Regions from separate parts of the Homo sapiens genome. Here region 1 is linked to region 2. The links come from fine-mapping of genetic effects on gene expression. Tissue or cell type: whole blood. Region 2 holds a variant in brackets; the other region holds the start of a gene. All regions are shown on one strand. Distances are from middle to middle.

What was found. PIP is the estimated chance that this variant, and not a neighbour inherited with it, causes the effect.
Region 1: it holds the start of ARAP3, and the variant in region 2 is fine-mapped to the expression of ARAP3 in whole blood (INTERVAL, PIP 0.97).

What each region holds. Positions count from the first base shown.
Region 1 is chr5:141,680,131-141,685,492 of GRCh38, forward strand. ARAP3 (ArfGAP with RhoGAP domain, ankyrin repeat and PH domain 3) reads right to left here and starts at 2,100. Exons shown (of 33, transcript NM_022481.6): 1 at 2,043-2,100; 2 at 1-373. The coding sequence starts at 356. RefSeq lists a silencer at 2,100-2,149.
Region 2 is chr5:141,717,086-141,722,461 of GRCh38, forward strand. It overlaps LOC124901092 (a long non-coding RNA gene), which reads right to left and starts at 3,723. Exons shown (of 2, transcript XR_007058973.1): 1 at 1-3,723. The variant A/G (reference allele first, on the strand shown) is at 2,212.

The DNA.
Region 1 (5,362 bases), 37 kb before region 2:
GCTGGGCTCAGCCCAGGTCTCTGAGTGGTGGCAGGGCCACTGAGTCCACCAAACACGGTCCTGGGCTTCGGCACGGGCTTAGGGGGCTGGGCTTGCGGGGCTGGGCTGGGGGATGGTTCCATGGCACTATCTGATTTGGGATCCAGGGAGCCCTCTTCGGTGCCTGTCTGTAGCAGGCGTAGAATGCGTTTCCGGTGCCCTGTGGCGCTGATGCCCAACTGCTTCAACTCCTCGTGGCCCAGGCCCCGGGCTGCACCTGCTGTAGCCAGGCCATGCCGTCGGAACGTGTCTGCATACTGCTCCAGGTGCACCGTGGCCAGCCACACAGCGATGTCCAGGTCCTGAGGGGCAGCCATGGGGGCTCAGGCCATTGCTGGGGGGAGGGGCAGGGTGAAGGGAGGGCTCAGGCTGAGAATCCCCCTCTCTGCCCCAGAGTCTGAGGCCTGGACAGTGAGCACCAGCCTCCAATCTTCCTCCAAAGAAAGATGCTGAAAGGCCTGCGATCTGGAAGCAGAGCCATCCCAGAACAACAGCAATGGCTCTCTACTTAGGGAAGGGACTTCATTTGAAGTTAAGGAAACTGAGGCCCAGAGAGGGGAAGGGGCTTGCCCCAGGTTCACAGTAAGTCAGTGCTAGAGTTGGCCCCTCAGTTCCTGCCCACCCTGGGTCTGGGTCAAAGCTCTGCTCCTGCCTGACTGCACATCCAACTGAGTAAGCATGGGACAAGATGCTAGAATGCTGTGGGTCAGAGTGGGATAGGGAGATGCAGAGGAGGGGCCAATGATGTGGCCAATCAGCTCTGGAGTAAGGTAGGGAGAGGGGCAGCCTAGATAGGAGGAAGGAGGTGCAGACGCCCCCTCCCTCTTGTTTCCAGAGCCGATGTATGCAGGCCTGCCGTCCTAATCCTGGTTGTTCCCAGTCCCTCCTCCCCTTCCACCTATTGTCTCTGCTCAGACTTCCTTCCTGTCCCTCCAGCCCTGGCCGCCTCCACATCCTGCCTGCTTTGGTCAGGCTGCCGGGAGAGCCCTAACCAGTCCTAATGTGTGGGGTCCCGGCCCTGGGTGGAGGCTAATTGAAGAATAAGGATGGGGATGCCAGAGAGATGAGGCCTGACCTCTGGTCAGGGGTACTCCAGAGGCTTCTGGACTCTCTGCCCACCGGCAGCATGTTCACATGCTGTTCACCTGTGTGTGCACATGCCCTGTAGCGATTTGGCAGTGTGAAATGCCATCCCCCCACCTCTGCTTTCTCCAAGCCTTCCTTTTCTGAGCTTGCCTTTTCCCTGCTCATTCCCTTGGGCTCAGGTCTCTGTGCTCTGTCCCCCTTCCACCAGCCTGACCCCGACCCTGACCCTGGTCTATTTCATAGACCTGTCTCTAATTCTGTGGCCCCTGAGTTTTATCTCTGCCTTGTCACTGTCCCTGCCCCATTCCATCTCAACCTCTCAATTCTTCTTTGTCCCTCTCCTTGTCCCACCCTGTTTTGCTCTCTGTTATTAAGCTTGTCCTTGACTCAGTCTACAATTCTAACCAGATCTTGAGTTGTATCTGTGTCTCTGTCTGCCTCTGAGCCTGGGTTTCTGTCTTCCGCCTCGGCCTAGGCTCTCTCCCTGTTACTCTTGTGCTCTGTCGGTGACCAGGACGCCCTCTCCGTCCCAGCATCACTGCTGGCCTCCCTCTGCCTCTCTCCAGCTGGGCCTCATTCCCAAGCCAGGGCCCGCGTGCTGAGCCTCGGGCCCTGACTCAGGGCCCGGTTTCCCGGTGACTCAGGCCGGGCTCGACAGCACGGGGCTGGGAGCTGAGGTGCTCGCGGGACAGGAGTGGCGGGGGCGGGGCGGGCAGTGGCGGGCAGCGCAGGCTGCGACGAGGGAGGGGGCGAGGAGGGATGGGGCAGAGGCCGGGCAGCAGGAGGGAGGGGCGGGTCGTGGCAGGGATGGGGAGGGCCGCCGGCGCCGAGGGGGCCTGGGAGCCCACGAAGGCCCTCGAGAAGGTGATGGGGAGGAGTCTGGGAAGCAGGGACCCGGGGGGCGCGGGGGTCCTCACCTCACTACGCGGCCGCCGTCCGCTCGCGGGTGCCCGCCGCTCGTCCGAGGTTCTGGGTCCCGCCGCGCCGGCCCCGCCTCCCCTCTGCCCTCCCTCGACGGGCCCAGCCCCGCCCCGCCCGGCCGGTTCCCTCCGCGGGGCCCCGGCCACTCCTTGTGCAAGCGCAGGCCTCCAAAGGGTTTGGGCTTCTTGCCCAACCGCCGCGCTTATCTCCGAGTCTGCCCCCAGTCTGCCCTCTCGCAGGCCGAGAAAGGACCAGAACACGTTGGGACGAAGACAACCTCAGGGAGAGGGACAAAGAGGCAGAGACCGGGACGGAGACTGGGACGGAGGTAGAAACTGAGAAAGGGAGAGTGCCAGGGACGGCTTTGCATCCTCTCCGCTGCTCCCATGCCCTCCAGTCCTGCCAAAAGGGAGGAGGAAAGGTCGAGCCCTAATCCCCCAGGGCACCTCTCCCACGCCCGGAAGGGTGGCTGGACCCTGGCAACCAGTTTAGTGTGGGGACGGAAGCTGGACATCCAGAATTGAGACTTGGCCTGGGCAACAAGCGCAGAGGCCCAGCAGAGGGGTACCCGTCTGTTTCTCCCCACTTCCATCCCCAAGGGCCCGGCCTAGGTTCCTTCGAGGGATGAAGGTCCGCAAGGCACATCCCTACTTCCAAACCAAGGTTTGGGGCTGCCTTTTTGGGACAGGCGGACGCCCTGCAAGCTCAGTGACCAAGCAAGCAGCTGTTTCATTCATGGGAGAAGCCGCCCCTTCTCCCCAACTCCCACCCTAAAATTTCAGGGGGGATGCCGGGGAGGCCTGAAGAGGAATGGCCCTTCTCTCCTTCGCTAATCTTGCCGGAACCCCGGTCCTGGAGCCTGTCTCCCAGGGGCGGAGGCACTTCCCTCTCTGAGCAGGACCAGTGTTTGGGTGTGGGGGGGGGGTGTTTGTGTGTGTGTGTGTGTGTGTGTGTGTGTGTGTGTGTGTGTGTGTGTGTGTGTATGTGTTGGGGGTGGCGGGGGCGCTGGCCGGCTGTGTTTTCCTGTTTGTATGAGAGGAAGTTGGCTGTGAGTCAGCAGACACAGGAACTGTCAGTAGCTAGGGGAAGACCCCTGCCTCAGGGGAAGAAGAGGGGAGTGGGAGGAAGTGGTTCCCACCTCTTCCAGCTGCCTCAGCTAGGGGAGGGACTGTCATCTTCAACCTACTGGAGCCCCACTTTCCCGGCCTTCCCTTTGAGAAAGAGAATTATAGTAATAAAATAATAATTGCAATAGCCATAATAAGGGCTACCAATTATTGAGAGCTGACCGTGCTCCAGGATCTATGTAAACATTGCTTTGCAAACTTTAATCCTCACAAATATCCCTACAAATAGGAAATTTTATCACCTCTATTTTACATATAAGGAGACAGGGAGCATTAAATAACTTGCTCAAGACTCTGCAGCTAGAAAATAGCCAACCCTCCAAGTCTATATCTATAACTACCATGCTCACCTACCACCCTGGACAGGACCCCTGCACCATGTCCTTTTTTTCAGATGGGCAACTGTGGTGGCAGTGAGAATGCTCCTCACAGATCTTACACTGTGAGGAGTGAAATTAACCAATGGCCCCAGCTGCTTCTCTCTGAAATCTAAGGCCAGCTTCCCACTGGGCTGCTCCCAGCCAGTGACAGAGCTCAGCAGAGATCTAAGGCAGACCCATTCCTGGGAGATAGGGGACTCCTTTGACAGCTGACTTTGGATCAAGATTTCCCAATGGCTTTGCTGAACTTTCCTTTGACTGGTGTTTTAGGATGCTCCTCTCAACCTTTATTCCTTCCCTCTCTCCTTCACAGCTCTCCTAGCTCCAGGCTCCCTTCCTCTCTCACAGGCATCTCCCCTAGTCAAATCCTTGCATTCTGCCTTGGCAGCTTCTTCTTTAAGGACTCAGACTAACCCAGCAAAATAAGGGAGCAGGAAAAGACAGTAAAGGGCACAGGGAGTTTTGAGGAATGGATGCCGGGGAGTTTGGGTCAGGGGCTAGATGCAAGAGTTCTGAACCTTTTTGTGCCATGTTCTCCTTTGGCAATACGGTAAAGTATGTGGTCTCATCTCAGAATAATATTTTAAAATGCATAAAATAAAATATATAGGATTGCAAAGGAAACCAATTATGTTGTAATACACATATAAAACCGATGTGATATAGTAATATATGTGCTTCTTTATTAATGCTTTAAATAAGATCTAGTGGTAGGTTGATACCTCACATAACTTTGATGCAGTGATGAGCATAAATGGTATTTCAAAAGATCTGCAATATTGTAATATGATATAAAAATATATGTGATTTCTACTGGTGACAAAGCCATAGTTATGGCTAAAATGACTGGTTTGTTGCTATTGTCATAATTGGAGGAAATGTTAAATTTCAGCTAGAGATTAGTGAAAGTAATATTCTTTTCCCATCCAAGTCCACTGACTCCAAGTTAAGGACACCAATGCCAGATGATGGGGCAGAGCCACAGAGAGGGAGACCTGGCTTCCTCCCTCAGACCCCACTTCCCTTCTTTGGCTCAATGATATGGGGCAGGTGGAGGCTTCTGGCCCCTGGCTTGTGTCTTCCTGAGTTCAAGCAATTCTCGTGCCTCAGCCTTGTGCCTCAGCCTCCCGAGTAGCTGGGATTACAGGTGCCTGCCACTACACCCAGCTAATTTTTGTATTTTAGTAGAGACAGGGTTTCACCATGTTGGCCAGGCTGGTCTCAAACTCCTGTCAGGTGATCCATCCACCTCAGCCTCCCAAAGTGCTGGGATTACAGGCGTGAGCCACCATGCCCGGCCGAAATTAGTAAATCTTAAATCTTAATCTTAACACATAGGACAAAAGGGACACTAGTGAGCAGAGGAAGAGGAAGAATGAAGCAATGAGGAGATGTGGAAGGGAATTCTTCAATAGCCCCTTCCATGTCTCGATTTGTTCCCCACTCAAATGATAGACTATTAAGCCACAATCACTTTGGAGGCCACTTTGTTCACCAAAAGTGGATGGTATGCAGTAATTAAGAACAAGGTCTCTCGGCTAGGCACTGTGGCTCACACCTGTAATCCCAGCATTTTGGGAGGCCAAGGCAGGAGGATTGTTTGAGAGCAGGAGTTTGAGGCCAGCCTGGGCAACATAGCAAGACCTCGTCTCTACTAAAAATTTTAAAATTAGCCAAGTGTGGTAGTGTGCACCTGTAGTCCCAGCTACTCAGGAGGTGGAGGTGGGAGGATTGCTTGAGCCAGGAGGTGGAGATTGCAGTGAGCCGAGATCGTACCACTGCACTCCAGCTTGGGTGACAGTGAGGCCT
Region 2 (5,376 bases):
AAGTATTATCCGTAAACAGATGAGGGAATGAAGCTCAGAAAGGCTGGGCAATCTGCCTAAAGCCACACAGCTAACAACGAGGTGAGGCTGGAATTAGAAATGTGGCTTGCTCTGTCTTAACCACTTCTCTTTTCTGCCTTCTGAGGGTTCAGTGCTGGAACACCTAAATGTTTTGAGAAGGAGGAGCTTCAGGTGTCTTCTGTCAGAGCTGGAGGGGGGCCAGGGGCGGAGCCTATGTGATCTGCTGGAAGCACTCAGTTTTCTGTTATTTGGGTGAGAGTAGTGGCTTCCTTATTTTCAGGCTCAGGACACTGGCCTCCCTTTACACCACCCTATTCCATGCCATCTGTTATTGACACCCCACTTACCTTAAGGTGCTGAGAGCTTTCCAAACACAGAATAGCTCCTGAAGGAGGAGGAGGGGGAGAACCTGCAACACTTTTGCTCCTCCCAGAGGGTCCTGGAGGGGCAATGAGAGTGACACCTGACACAGGAACCTGGGGGTTTCCAAGCTTAGCCACCATCTATAAATTCACCAGATACTTATTGTCTGGTTATTCGGTGTCAGGCACCTTTCCAGGGCAGGGCTGCCATACAGAGTTGCATGCTGCACAACCTTCTGGAGGTGCCAATCATATTGTAGACACTGTACATGACATGACTGGGTGCTGGGAATGTCGTGGTAAGCAAGACCAACCTGACCCCTGGTCTCACAGAGGATGGAGTCCCACAGAGGCCTCAGTCAGGCAAGGCAGGAATGACCTTACAGTATGGCCAGGGTGGTGATGGGGGAGGAACAGGGGCTGTTGGGACTTGCAGGAGAGGCCCCAAGACTATATTTGGCAAGTCAAAGAAGGCTTCCTGGAAGAAGTGACGTCTAAACTAAGGCTTGAAGGATAAATAGAAGCAGGCTGCTTAAGGGGGAGTGTTCCAGGCAGGAGAAGCATGAGCAATTAATTATAATCCAAGGTGATACAGGCTGTAACATCAACATGAACACAGAGCTGTGGGAGCCTTTATTCATTCTATCAGTCGTTTACTCATTAAGGAGATGGGGAATAGTTATGCCCGGAAGCTGGAAAAGTTTCACCCAGGAGATAACCCTTGAACTGGGCCTTGGAGGATAAGTAAGGGTTTTCTGGGTTTAGAGGGGCAGAAGAAGGGGGAGAGAAGCATCTGAGGAGACAAAACCACATGAGCAAATGCATGCGGTTGGAGGTTTTAAGCATGGTGCCTGCACAAAGCAGAGGTTTAGGACACCTTTCCCAGGCTACTCTTGGTAGCTCTTTGTCTCTCAAACCTAAACTTGATATTTATTATTCACTTTTAACATGACCTCATTCGTTAATAAGGGTTCAGATAGGAATGTTGGATGTATGCATGCATGAGTGCAGGAATCAGTGGATGAGTGGAAAGACTAATAAATGCATGAATGAGGGAATGTATGAAAGAATGAATAATAATACTTAACATTTTATACATGCTTTCCATGTGCCAGGAATTGTTCTAAGTGTTTTTTATTTATTAAATCATTAAATCCTCACACAACCCTAGGAGGTAGGATTTATTATTATATGCATTTTACAAATGGAAAAAGTAAGGCATGCAAAGTTAAGTAATGCACACAGTGCCACACAGCTAGGAGGTGGAGTGCGGGGACAAGGGTTTGAACAGAGGCAGTTTGGCTCCAGAGGATGTTACAGCCTGGGTCCCAGGAACAAATGCTAGGAGTTGGGCAGTTCCGCATTTATCCAGATAACTCCTCTCTCACTCCGTAATGGTTTCTTGGCTAAGCCTCCTCCAGAAACGTGCTGCTTCCTTGGAGCAGACCTGGGTCCAGGCAGCCAGAGTCTGTCTGGGAACTGCCCTGGCTGGTGGGGACACACAATACCTGCAGCCCTCGCAGGGCAGCTGCAATGTGGTGAGGATGTGTTTCTCCTCCCCAGAAAAGGCTGGGTGAGAAAGTAGGGCCTTTAGCTTGCACAGTGGAGAGCATCCTTGCTCTGGGAGGGCCTCTCTGATCACTGAAAAAGAAGCTTGAAGTTTGCCTTGCAGTTGATTGTATTAGCATTTCAGAAGAATCCCCCTTCCTGGGAAGTGTATTAACGATTCACTCTGGCTGGTCTCTCACCCGGGGCAGCCTCTTCGTGAAGTGCCACAGATTTCCTAGAAATCCTCTGAGACATTTTGACATTCTGATTGTCACTGCCA[A/G]TGTGGGCTGCGAAGGAATTAATTGACACAGATGAAACCCTCAATTTCCAAGGGCTGTGTAATAAAATAAAGGTTATTGTATGATTGCAGATTCCACCACTAATGAAAAAGGGCTAAAGACCATAATGACCATATGGCATGCTTAGTGAGTGGGGACTCACTTTGATTTTCACAGGCAACCATTCTGAACTTTAGGGAATATTAAGGGTGATAGTTATTATTTATCGAGAATTTATGATATGTTAGGTACTTTACTAAATGATCTATCTATATATTATGTATTCCAACTCTATGAATGAGATGTTATTTTCATCTCCATTTTACGGGTGAATAAACTGAGGCAGGGAGAGGTACAGTAAACATGGCTAGTAAGTTGGAGAGTAGAAATAGACAACCTTATGGCTGAAAGATATTCTATTTTCTTGAGGATGAAGGATGATTGAAATACCTGGGCAGGCAGGGTTAAGATATGGCTAAGCATAAGGAATTCTGGCTGGTAGAGTATTATAAGTGTCTGTACACACTTTCTAGACACTGAGAGAACACCACTGCCTTTTCTCTGAGACCACAGGAATCCCATCCATCCATCTACCCATTCATCCAAACAAAAGAGATTCACCCATTCATCATCCACCCACCCATAGATCCATTAATCTGCCCATCAATCCACTCATCAATTTATCTATCGTCCACCCATCCATTCATGCATCCATTCAGTTAGTCATATATTCATGTATTCACTTATTTATTCAACTCAGGGATGTCTCTGACTACCCCTCCCCAGCTTCTGTCATGGAGGTAGGTGCCCCCCTTTCCTATAAGTGCCTGCTATGACAGATGTAGCAGGTGGAGGAAAAGCAGCAGAAGAACAAGGTGCTGGGAGATACAGTACCACCTCCATAATTTGTAAAGAGTTCCTTTAACTTTCTCATCCCCAGTCTCCATATATGTAAAATGGGAATAATATTTGCAGGCTGTTGTGAATTTAAAGCAAGCAAATGTGTGATATGTTTTGGAAATATGAAAGTTCTGCATAAATTTATGTCTGTATCATCATTATCATCACTAGTGCAGTATGTACTCAAATCTATGACTCTCTTAAGTTTGAGAAGTCAGCATCTGTAAAATGAACCATTTCTGATTTTGTTTTAAAGAAATTCTTTAAAATTTATAAACATGAAATTCAGTAAAATAAAATTACTTTAAATCATGCAATTGTGCAGTTTTATAATAATCAGATCTATTTATTCCACATTCTCTTGAGGCTACAGGAAGTTTTGGAGATTAGGAGTTGGAAAGGGACTTGGTAAAAAGGGATACTTGATCATGAAACATCAGTCCTGTAATTCCTGGCTTAAGGGATAGCGCTCTCCAGAATAATATTACATATCAGGAAGACTGTTTAAGGCTTATTTCTTGTTGGTTATAAGAATAGGTGAGGGAAGGCCGGGCGCAGTGGCTCAGGCCTGTAATCCCAGCACTTTGGGAGGCCGAGGTGGGTGGATCACAAGGTCAGGAGATCGAGACCATCCTGGAGAACACGGTGAAAGCCCGTCTCTACTAAAAATACAAAAAAATTAGCTGGGTGTGGTGGCAGGCGCCTGTAGTCCCAGCTACTCGGGAGGCTGAGGCAGGAGAATGGCGTGAACCCAGACGGCAGAGCTTGCAGTGAGCAGACATTGCGCCACTGCACTCCAGCCTGGGTGACAGAGCGAGACTCCATCTCAAAAAAAAAAAAAAAAAAGGAATAGGTGAGGGAAGACTGTAAGGAAATATGTGCCTGAAAATCCAGGAAAAGATGAATAATCAGGCTACAAGATGAGCAGGAACTGCTGTAAATATAGGCTGTGTATCAGTCAGTGTGGGTTACATTATGTTGCAGTAACAAACAGTCCCCAAATCCCTGAGGCCTATGACAAATGTTTATTTCTCCCCTATATTACATATCTGTCATGGGTCAGCTGCAGCTCTGCTCCCCTGCTTTCTTCACTCTGGAGCCCAGGCCAATAGAGGAGCACACTGATTCTTAAAGCTTTCCCTCATATTTTATTGGCCAAAGCAAATCGCATGGCAGGCCTCTCATCAATGGGAAGTATGTTCCACTTTCAGAAAGGGCACCCAAGGGAGGAACAGCAAATATTTTGACCAATAACACAACTTTCCATACACATTGTAACTGAACTAGGTTATTTGAACCTCGGAGTGGCTTAGAGGAAGGACCTTTGGAGGAAGAGGTGGTAGCTCAAGTAATTTAGCTTCTCTCTGTGTCTGCCTCTTCTCCTCTCACCACCCATTTTCTATGTATTGTGGCTTTTGCTTTTGTGTCCCTCTTTTTTTTTTTTTTTTTTTTTTTCTGAGGTGAAGTCTTACTCTGTTGTCCAGGCTGGGGTGCAGTGGTGTGATCTTAGCTCACTGCAATCTCTGCCTCCTGTGCTCAAATTCTCCTCCCTCCTCACCCTCCTGAGTAGCTGGGACTACAGGAATGTGCCATCACACCCAACTAATTTCTTTCTTTTTTTTTTGGAGACTAGAGACTTACTCTGTCACCTAGGCTGGAGTGCAATGGCGTGATCTCGGCTCACTGCAACGTCTGCCTTCCATGTTCAAGTGATTCTCCTGCCTCAGTTTCCCAAGTAGCTGGGATTACAGGTGTGAGCTACCGCACCCGGCTAATTTTTTGTATTTTTGGTAGAGATGGGGTTTTGCCATGTTGGCCAGTCTGGTGTCGAACTCCTGGCCTCAAGTGATCTGCCTGCCCTGGCCTCCCAAAGTGCTGGGATTACAGGCATGAACTGCCACACCTGGCCTGCTTTTCCATCTTGAGATTCCTGTTTCCTCATGACTCTGGCTTCCCCTTATGGTCCTTTTGCCCTCTTTCTCCCTTATGACATTTTACCTTCTGATTTTGCCATTAATTAGCCAGAATTCTTTAGTGTCAATTGCTAGAAACCCAATTCAAAGTAGTTGAAGCAAAAGGGAAAAGAAGAAAATTTTTGGCTCATATATGAAAAATCAAAGGTAGAGCTGGACTTCAGCATGGCTAGGTCTCTGGGCCTTGATAATATTCTTGCCATCTCTCATCTATTCTTTCCACTGTGTTAACTACATCTCTGGGCAGACTTTCCCATCTTGTTGATGGGATGGTTGCTATGGCAGAGGCTCCTG